Regions from separate parts of the Homo sapiens genome. Here region 1 is linked to region 2. The links come from fine-mapping of genetic effects on gene expression. Tissue or cell type: nucleus accumbens. Region 2 holds a variant in brackets; the other region holds the start of a gene. All regions are shown on one strand. Distances are from middle to middle. Region 1 holds the start of TUNAR (transmembrane neural differentiation associated intracellular calcium regulator). Region 2 overlaps SYNE3 (spectrin repeat containing nuclear envelope family member 3).

Evidence for each region. PIP is the estimated chance that this variant, and not a neighbour inherited with it, causes the effect.
Region 1: TUNAR starts here. The variant in region 2 is the best candidate, but not a certain one, in a credible set for the expression of TUNAR in nucleus accumbens (GTEx, PIP 0.56).

What each region holds. Positions count from the first base shown.
Region 1 is chr14:95,874,505-95,880,019 of GRCh38, reverse strand. TUNAR (transmembrane neural differentiation associated intracellular calcium regulator) reads right to left here and starts at 3,188. Exons shown (of 2, transcript NM_001416131.1): 1 at 2,843-3,188. The coding sequence starts at 2,854.
Region 2 is chr14:95,469,049-95,474,048 of GRCh38, reverse strand. All of the region lies in intron 2 of SYNE3 (spectrin repeat containing nuclear envelope family member 3), which reads left to right. Among named protein-coding and RNA genes, the nearest start is that of SYNE3-AS1, 45 kb to the left of the region's middle. The variant A/C (reference allele first, on the strand shown) is at 2,303.

The DNA of each region.
Region 1 (5,515 bases), 410 kb before region 2:
AAGCTGTTGTTTTCCTCACACTCCGATCAGTCCAGGTGTGCATCCTCACTGATGCAGAAATGCCACAGCACTCAGGCTGTGTCCCCATGATGCTAAGTGTGGCAGCTGCAATCATGAGGGCATGGTCTCAAGCCCTGACTTAGAAGAGTAAGCAAACAAGGGAAATGTCTCATCACTGTTATTTACTTACGATACATAACCCTCTTGTTCTCCCAAAAGAAATCCAAGGCACTTAAAACATATTTTAACATGAGGCCATTATATGTATGGTGTGGAAGAGTTCAGCTTAGAGATCTTACAGAAAAAAAAAAACTGGATTTAAGACAAAGAAAAACTGAAAAGGAAGAATTTATTCTCGATGGCTTATTTTCACACGGGGAGAAAAAAGGCAAAAAATATGAGAAAACTAATGAATTAAAAAATAAATATCAGTAACAAGAGTAATGTTTTGTGATGTAATCCAGCTTTGGCTATGAGTAGTATGATCTATGACACAAAAATCGTTATTTCATAATTACCTCAGCATTTTCAAAAGCAACTTAATGAAGATTGTTTCTCTGCATTCATTTTTATTCAAAACCTTACCAGTTAATCATGAGAAGCTAAAACACACAATGCTGGGAGATTAATATCCCTACATAAGATGCATTATTTTTCCTTTGCAGATCCCTATGAGCCTGTCAAAAATGAAAGCTTTGCTCTGGTTTTGTGAATTTCAAACAGTCACAAAACCCGCTGAGAGCCGAGTTTCTGGGAAAAAGGTGGGACATGCCCGTTTCATTTGGGATTCGGCAACACTTTAAGAGGTTCATTAATCCACATCTTAAAAAGACCAATGACAACCCCATTAACGACCCATAGGTCAAAGTGATGGATTTAGCTCTAATCCACAGCCAAAAACTAACTCAGGGTCTGAACATCCTTCAGCCCACCTTCCCTGTCCCAGCCCCTCTGCAGCCAAGCTAAGGCCGGCTCCACGCATCGCTAATATACTCAGCAAACAATGCAGTTGGAAGAGTCTAAAAAAAAAATCACTTTATTTATTTGCAGTAATTGTTTGTGCTGGGAATGTTTTACCTATGCAAATATGATTGATTATTTTTGGAGGGGCAGGAAAAGCTCACCAGCTTGCTGCTTTCTAGCCTGCTGGGCATCTTCTTAATGCATTGTATGTCATCAGTTCTTAGGAGCTAATGTCATCTCTCCTACTGAAAGGCCTAACCTATCCCACAACCCCAATCTGGTAGCTTGGAACATTTTATAGCCACTATGTGTTAGCCCAGTAAATAATCTATTAAGCACAGCTCGAGCTTCACCTCTTTTGGGCTGAACCTGAATCTCACAGCTCCCTGGAAACCAAGTCCTCTTCTTGGAAATCAACAACCCATTCAGTGTAGAATGTTCGTCCAAATGACTGGACTAAGACATCCTAGCTCAAGCCTGTAACTTACTAGTTTTGTCACTCAGAATCATTTAGCTGAAGGGGGTCTGAAGGGCTGGTCAGTCCACCCTTGCTCTTTACTAACAGAGACACAGAGGCCCCTACTGCTAAGGGACTTTCTCTGCACCAACACAAATGTACGTGTAGACAACTGAGCTCAACACTGTGACTTCACCAATGGAACAAGCCCCTCAGACCAGGATCAATTGATTCCAGGTGGCTTGCCCCTTCAGGAACTAAATGCACTTAAGCAAACAGTTAACTAAATGCACTTAAGCAAACAGTTAACTAAATGCACTTAAGCAAACAGCTAACAGCGGCAAGCCAGAGAACTGGGGGCATGCATCAGGCATCGTATCTGCATTAAAACTCCTTTTCTTTGGGGCTCAGAAGTGTTTGGGGCTCAGAAGTTCTGCTGACACTGAGGGCTGGCAAATATGAGCCAACACTGGGCCAGCCCCTGCACAGTGGCCATCTGGGATCAGCCCCCGCTCCGGTTAAGTAATCATCTCCAAGATTTACAAAACCAGGGGCAGGTAACCTTGATGAGCCCTGCCCCCAGGGAAAGGTTAAGGATGCAGTTCTGAGGCCTAGCATGTGCTGGGCACACAGGAGGAACCACTGTCCTTTCCATCCTTCAGGAGGACTGGGAAAACAGAACCCCAGGAAAGAGAACACCTAGGAAAACATATTATCCTCTCACCTGAACTAAAAAGTAGAGTACACATTAGGGGTTGGCAGCAGCGTGATGGCAGGATGGACAAAAAGTGCTTGCTACAGGCAATTTATTTCATCAGAACAGATACTCATTGGAGCAAGTATTTTCACACACACGCAATGACTCTCGAGACGGAAGCAGTTAGTAGAAGAAATGAGACAGGTGTGTTTGTTACAAAGGGAACAGTCTGGCAGGGAAGTAGGGTACCCTGGTTTCCAATCCTGGTCTCCCACTTCCTAACCTTGTGACCTTGATTAAGTCATTCAACCTCTCTAAGCCTCAGTTTCCTCATCTGGGCCAAGGAGAAACGGGGACCTATTTCCCAGAGCGGCTTTGAGGCACACTGCCCGGCACGGCCTGGACACCCACTAAATAAGAGTTGTTGCCCCCAAATGCTAAGTCTGAACCTAGCTGCATACACATGCCGTTATCTAGACCAGACAGGTCTCCCGCCTGCATGTCAAACCCACATCTTTCTCCAGAAGGCAGAAGAAAGCACCAGGTCTGCCCGGGCAGTTCAGCCTCCAGGCGGGGCTTCGGGGCAGGGGAAATTGAACGATTCAATCGGAAGCCCCGAATGTTTCCAGGCTGTAAGTGGGGAAGGAGGGTAGGACAGGGGCCCTGAGGCGGCCTCCGGGCCCTGCGAAGGGAGCTTTGTTCGCGAGGCGGAGGGCCTGGCTTACCGAGAAGCGCATCCGGAGGCGGTTGAGGGGCGCGCGGGGCACGCAGCAGAGCCGCAGCCCGGCCCGGACCCGGAGCGCCGGAGCCGCAGGAAGGCGAGGAGAAGGAAAAAAAGGAGGCTGCCGCCGGCTCCTGCCTCATTCTCCCGGGCAGCGTTGACCCGCTGGCCGCCGCCGGATAGGGCTGGCCGCCGGGCGCGGGACCCCGTGCGCGCTGCTCATGTCCCCGTCTGCCGCTGGCTAGGTGTGCGCGCAGCCTGCTGGTCTCTGGGCGGCACCCGGGGGCTCCTCATGCCCCGCGCCGGGGCTCGGCGGGAGGACCTCGGAGAGGCAGCGCGGAGGGAAAGAGAGAGAGACAGCATGAGAACGCGCAGAGCTGCACCCCGCGGGGGCCGGGCGCCAGCAGCACCGCGCTGCCCCACCCACGGCGCGTCTGCTCCCCGCGCTGCGCGCCCAGCGGGGCGCCGAGCCCCAGAAACTTTAGCACATGGCCGGTCCGGCGGCCACGGTGGCCGTAGCTGCCCTGCTCTTCGAGCGCCCCCCACTGCTTCCTGCCCCAAGCCCCAGAGCGCAGCTTACCAGCGGCGACCGCGACCGCAGCGGCGGGGCGCCCACCCGGCCGCAAGCACAGCAGTGCGCACCTGCGGGAAAGGAGGAAGGGGCTGGCGGCGTCGGGGTCCCTACAGGGGAGGGGCACCTCGGCGGCAGCAATCGGCGCAGGTTAAGGCATTCTGGGCCGGGGCTGCGCGCGAGCCAGGTGGTGGCAGGCCGGGATTGGGGAGGGTCTCTGCGCCCCCCGCCCCGCGGCGCCGCTGCTGATGACGCGCGCGGGCTTCCCCGGCCCCGCGTCTGCGGAGCCAGCCCCGTTACCTAGCGACTCGCTCCGGGGAGCCCCCGCTGACGCGCGCTGCGAGCCGGGCTGCGGCAGCCGAGGGGCGGGGAGGGAGGGGAGGGGGAGCTCCAGTGCGGGGAGGGCCGGCGGCTGCGGGCCAAGCTCCTCCCTCCGCTTCCCTCTCCGCGTTGGGGAGGGGGCCCGGGAAAGACGTGGCCTCCGCCTGGCCCTGGAGGATGGGAGGCCTTCGCGGGGCGGGGGGGACGGAGGGAGGCACTGAGTGCCCCTGTCCCCGCAGTGGGGATGCAGCAGCAGGTGGCGGCTATGTGGCCTGTGGAGGCTCGGCACCCAGAGGCGCGCGGTGAGCCCGCCCCGGCGGGAGCGTGGCGAATGTGGCTTTGGGCGCGCGGGTGTGTGGGACACGCTCCCACCCACGTGGCGTACATGGGGACCTGGGGACGCGGGTGAAAGAGGCGCCTCCTCCTTCCTCTGGTCTCTCTCCCTCCTTCCTGGACATTTTGCTCCTGCGCTGTCTCTTTCTTCATCATGGAAGCCCAGGTTGCTCCGTTCCCCACTCCCAGCTCCTTATATCTTCCAGGGAACAGGCGGATGGCCTGGCAGCTGAAGGTAGTTAAGTCGTGGTCAAACCACTATACCCCCAATCCCTGCCGCCCTTTGGCGCCTCCCCAGCCCATCCCCATGTCCAGTTGCCCGCCTTGTAGGCCCTCTAACCTGCCTCGGGGCGCCTTCCACTTTCTTGGAAGACTTGGGACCTCTGACACAGACTGGGGTTCAAATCCAGGCCCCTCCAATTGCTTTCAGTACACAGGACATTTTAACGTCTTCAGGAAGATGGAGTCCTTGTCTCCAAAGGTCATAGCTAAGTACTAGTACCTAAGGCCTTCCATGAATGTGAACATGATTTTCTAGAAGATAAGCAGCCTGTCTCCTGGTTCTCTGGGACCTCACCAAAATCCACCCCAACGTCCAGGGAAGTAAGGCAAGTGCCGGGAAACATGGTCAGAGCAAGCAGCGACCATGGTCTCTATCGACGAGGAGGCAAATTGCCCAGGTCTGCTGGGTGCCTCAGAAGCAGAGCTGGGGGAAGAACCCAGACATCCTGGTTAGCAGGTTCCCAGGGCCCACCGCTGTGCCCCTTCCCCAGTTGGATGGTGCAAGGAACCTTCTGCCCCTACTTCTCAGAAGATCCTCCTGCCTACCAAAAGGCTGCTTCCCTCCCATCCCTGCTACAGAATAGGAATCACCTACCACCTCGTCCACAACACCAACCCATACCCTCCCTAGCTGGCCTTTCTGTCTTCCTCATGGTATGGATGTGGGGAGAAAGATGCAGAGGAGAGACTCAGCAGAGATTTAGGGGAATCAGGCCTGCCCAGGAACACCCACACCCCAGCCCTGCAGCTCTACAGGACAGAGTCCCTCCATGAGGGGCTTTGGGAAACAGCAGAGTCTGAGTGGTTTTTGTTGGCTTAGTGACAAGACATTTCCTCCAATTATTATTATTATTGAGATGCCAGTAACTCCTATTGAAAAACCCTGCAAGTCCATGGAAACAGAAACCTGTGTCTTAAGAAACCAGGGTCCAAAGGCCACACTTTTCTGAGAAAAGCACTTTGCATCCCAGCCTGTGTATAACAGTTGCATTCCAACATTTTCCGGCGAAATTGGGAGCAATATCTCTGAATTTCCCAACCAGTTATTATGGGTAGTTGCAGACAGGGAGGTGGTCCCCAGAAACTCCAGAAGAACTATTTCTGTGTGCCAAATTGGCTGCCGGCTCTTTCTTCAGCCCCAATTTCCCAATCTGCAGGTAGAGTTTGACA
Region 2 (5,000 bases):
CACCTCGCAAGCTCACACCAGCCTTAGTTCCAGCCACTGTCATACCTCCCAAGCTCACACTGGCCTTAGCTCCAGCCACTGTCACACCTCGCAAGCTCACACTGGCCTTAGCTCCAGCCACTGTCACACCTCACAAACTCACACCAGCCTTAGTTCCAGCCACTGTCACACCTCACAAGCTCACACCAGCCTTAGCTCCAGCCACTGTCACACCTCGCAAGCTCACACCAGCCTTAGTTCCAGCCACTGTCATACCTCCCAAGCTCACACTGGCCTGAGCTCCAGCCACTGTCACACCTCGCAAGCTCACAACAGCCTTAGCTCCAGCCACTGTCACACCTCGCAAGCTCACACCAGCCTTAGCTCCAGCCACTGTCACACCTCCCAAGCTTACACCGGCCTTAGCTCCAGCCACTGTCACACCTTGCAAGCTCACGCCCTCCTTTGATTGGCAGAAGACCTCGTAGACCTTCCACCGCCAAGCCTTTGTCCATGTGTTGCCTCTGCTTGGAATGCTTTTTTGTGTGGGTCTGGGTGTGCACAAGAAATGAAACCCTCCTGTCCGTGCATCTCTCCTGACCAGTTTCCGCCTTTCTCAGCCCCAGCTCCTGACCTTACCTGTCTGTGAGCATCACAGCCCTGCCTGTGTGCCCACTGTGTTAGGGTGCTTAGCATTTTAAACTTTCTACCCTTTGCTGGTGGGTCTTTCCCTCCAGGTGGTGGTTCTGGTTTAAGCAAAGTCAAGGGTGGTCCTTAGGAAGACACATTGGCAGGACCAGGGTGGATGGGCCCTGGAAGCCAGAGGCAGCACTTCTGTGAGCCCCGAGGGGGTGGGAGTCCAGGCAGAGGGGAGTCATGGCCTGAGCGTTCTGCCAGTGTCTCCTCCCACGGGGCTCCGGCATGCTTCATTTACTGTGTGTTTTGCCACTTCAAAACCAATTTCACAATAAGAAAGAAAACGTTTTCCTGTTGCCAGCTGGTAAGAGGGGGCAGCTAGTGCCTCTCGACCTACCCATGGGACCTGCCCCCGGGTGCTGGGGTCTCTCTTGTGCTTCCTCCACCAACTCTGTTGGCTTGTCTCCAGTGCCTGTTTGCTGCAGTGACAGGGACGTGGGCTCTGATCCAGTTCTGACTCTTAATAGCCATGCAGCCGGGAGGATGTCCCATGCCTTCCCGGGACCTCATGTTCCCATCTGTAGAGCAGGAATGAACCCCCTCACCCCTTGTGTTCCCGAGGGGTTAAGGGAAACTCCAGAATCCTCGTGGGGTGGGGGCTTTCTGTAAGGTGTGATTGGAGAACCCATCGCTCCTGGGTTGAGAGCTTGGCTACTGGGTCTGCAGGCCCGGGCTCCAAAGTCTGCCATGGCTGTGGCACCTCAGGAGGATTTCCCAGAGCTCTCTGAGCTTCAGCTTGCTTCCGGGGAGAGTGATAGCTGCTGCCTTTCAGGAAGGAGGGAGGATTAAGGAGGATCATTTATAGACATGCTTGTATGCACAGTGCAGGGTATGCTGGCAGAGCTGGCGAAATGGAGGCGATCGTTTCTTGTGGTTTTAGAAGCTGGGATACACAGCATACCAAGTGTCCCTGCCCATCCCCAGAGCCTCCAGCAGTGGGTCTTAGGAGCTTCCAGCCACACTCCCAGGTTCCAGCATATGTATTTATTTGTTTATTGAGAGGGAGTCTTGCTCTGTTGCCCAGGCTGGAGTGCAGTGGCACGATCTCAGGCTCCCTTGTCCTGTATCTGGGTCCTGGCCTGAGCCAGGCAGCTTCCTCACCAGCTTCTGGGCCACCGTCTTGGTCAGGAGCACCCTGGTGTTTCTCAAGGCTTGGATTCCCAATGCATTCATCCTTCAATATATCTTACTTCCCTACCTTTGCTCAAATATCCTTCTCCAGTTGTCTTTAATTAGAGACCTGCAGGCTTCATGCCAATGCCACCTCCTCCACAAAGCCTTCCTGGATTTCTCCCATCCCTCCCTGAGCTCTCATACTACTTTGCGGTCTCTCCTGGCCCTTTTTGCAGTCGTCTGCGCTCTTATCTGCAGCCCTCTTTCCTACCAGCTTGTTCATCCAGGACCCTAGCACTCAGCATAATGCTCAGCTGGGGGTCACCTGGTCTTGGCTGGGTTGAGGGAAAACCCTGATTAACCCCATTCCTCCACTTTCCTGGTCTCCTGATACTTCTCTCCAAGGTGTTTCCTTACATCCGATCCCCACCTTCCCCTTGCCCTCATTGGCTGCGACAAATTGGAATAATTCTGTGGCTGCAGTTCAAGTACTTTCTCCCAGCTGGCCACGCAG[A/C]CCTTGCCAAGCACTCCTGGACTGTGTCCTTGCTGGTGATGGGCTATAAAAGAATCTCACACCAGCCAAAGAGTGTAATCATCAGCGCAGTGAAAAAGAGTGGAATCTACTTCTCAAAATTCGGCTTTTCCAGCCTAGCCACAGCCTCTGGCCTCCCCTGGCTTCAAGCCTCCAATAAACTTCCTACAGGTTGATCTTTCAGGGCAGACGTTTCTTCTCCAGGTCGGGGAAGGGGGCTTGGTGTCTTGCCTGCCTTTGGACCAGCCAGCTCCTCTGCCTTGGTAAAGAAGCATCAAACTCACTCCCTTGAAAAGGCAGTGGGTCTCGGGTCTTTGTGTCCCCTTCTGTCCAGCCTGTGCCTCTTTCATGAGGATAAGAAGGACGAAGGTCCAGGGGTCTGGGGGGACCACACAGTCAGGACACCAGGCTTTGGAGAAGGGGCCATTGTCCGCATGGGACATTCCAGACCTGGCTGCTCCTTCTGGGTGTGGCCAAGGGAGATGGAATTTCACTTCTTCCCCAGAGTTGTTGGCTCCTGTGATTTTCAGAGCTGGACTCCATCTGAGCTGAAGCTGGGAGCAGGTGTGGAGGAGGCTTCTCTGGCAGCTGTAGAGAATCATTCCTCAAGGCTGGTGGTTTCTGTGGGTCCCCAGCTCCCTTGTTTGTAAATTTGGACTTATTGTGTTGCTAGCTTGGGGAATATGAAGTCTCCTTTCACATTTCTGGGAATCAGAAATATCATCTTACTTTCTTTTTTTTTTTTTCCTGAGACGGCGTGTTGCTCTGTTGCCCAGGCTGGAGTGCAGTGGTGTGATGGCTGGAGTGCAGTGTTGTGATCTCGGCTCACTGCAACATCTGCCTCCCAGGTTCAAGCAAGTCTCCTGCCTCAGCCTCCTGAGTAGCTAGGATCACAGGTGTGCGCCACCATGCCCGGCTAATTTTTGTATTTTCAGTAGAGACGGTGTTTCACCATGTTGGCCAGGATGGCCTCAAACTCCTGACCTCGTGATCTGTCCGCCTCGGCCTCCCAAAGTGTTGGGATTACAGGCGTGAGCCACCACATCCGGCTCTTTTTTTTCTTATTTTTAGTTTTTTAGTGACAGGTTCTTGCCCTGCTGCCCAGGCTTGAGTGCAGTAGTGTGATCATGGCTCACTGCAGCCTCAACCTCCTGGGCTCAAGCAATCTTCCTGCCTCAGCCTCTTGAGTAACTAGGACTACAGGCATATGCCACTGTGCCTGGCTAGTTTTTTTTTTTTTTTAATTAAAAAAAATGCTTTTGGAGAGATGGGGCCTCACTGTCTTGCCCAGAGTGGTTGCATACTCCTGGCCTCAGCGATCCTCCTGCCTTGGTCTCCCAAACTGCTGGGATTACAGGCATGAGTCACCACGCCTGGTCTACTATTATTTTTAATCAAATTAAATCTCTCTCTGAATGGCAACAAATTCATCCTCAGCCATGCTGTGGAACCCTGCCCCTGGGTGGTGTGAAACATCCTGGGTGGATAATCGTATTCAGTCTAGAACATTCCACACTGGCCCTTGGGTCTTCAGGCCACACTGGCCACTATGGTACTTTTGTTTTCCCCATCACTGCTCGCTGCTGAGAGGGACTCGGGGTCCCTGTGTGGGTACTTGCTGTGGCCACCACCCCCTGGGCCCCTGCCACATCCTGCTACTTGGCCAAACAAACCCTCTTTCCCTCTCTTGAGGAATCTCCCCATTCTTCACTCTCCCTGAGCACCTCCCACTCACATGCACACAGAGACAGCCTTTGGAAGGAGCTTGTTTGCCTCACTCTTTGATAACAAAGGTAGGAGGGGAAGTCCTTCTATACTATTATCATCATCGTCATCATCATCGTCATCATCAACGATTATTGTATGGAGTAAAAAAAGGATGGGGACCATTGCCCATTTGCACACATTGGGGAAGGGTCTACATAATTGTTCAACAGTTTACAAAGTACACTAACTTATACCCATGTTTAATTCATAGTGTTTTTATTTTATTTTTATTATTTTTAATATTATTTTTTGAGACATGGTCTCGCTGTGGCACCCAGGCTGGAGCGTAGTGGTTTGATCACGGCTCACTGCAGCCTCGACCTCCCAAGCTCAAGCGATCCTCCCACATCAGCCTCCCAAGTAGCTGGGACTACAGGCATATGCCACTACATCCGGCTAATTTTTAATTTTTTTTTTTTTTTTTTTTTTTGTAGAGACATGGTCTCACTGTGTTGTCCAGGCTGGTCTCAAACTCCTAAGCTCGAGCAATTCTCCTGCCTCAGCCTCCCAGAGTGCTAGGATTATAGGCATGCAGCACTGTACCTGGATAAAAGTGTTTTTAAAATTAATATTATAACCCTGGGAGGTGGACAAGCAGAGACTGTTATCGTTGTCTCAGGATGAAAAAGGGAGACCCAGAGTAGCCTAGTGACCTGCCTGGGGTCACACAGCTGTCAGTGGGGCAGCATTCCACATGGCAGGAGCTCTCCTTCACCCCAGCCATGGGGAAGGGTCAGAGACAAGCAGGCTGCTGGGAAGCCAGTCTAAGGACACTGACCACCAGCCCTCAGGGAGACGGGCTGGGGATCTGAGCTTGAGCTTTAGGCCATGCCTGCTGTTAGTAAAGACAGATCCAAAGATAAGGATAATAATAATAATAGTGAGCAGGTAGTGACTGGGTTGCGGTGTGGGC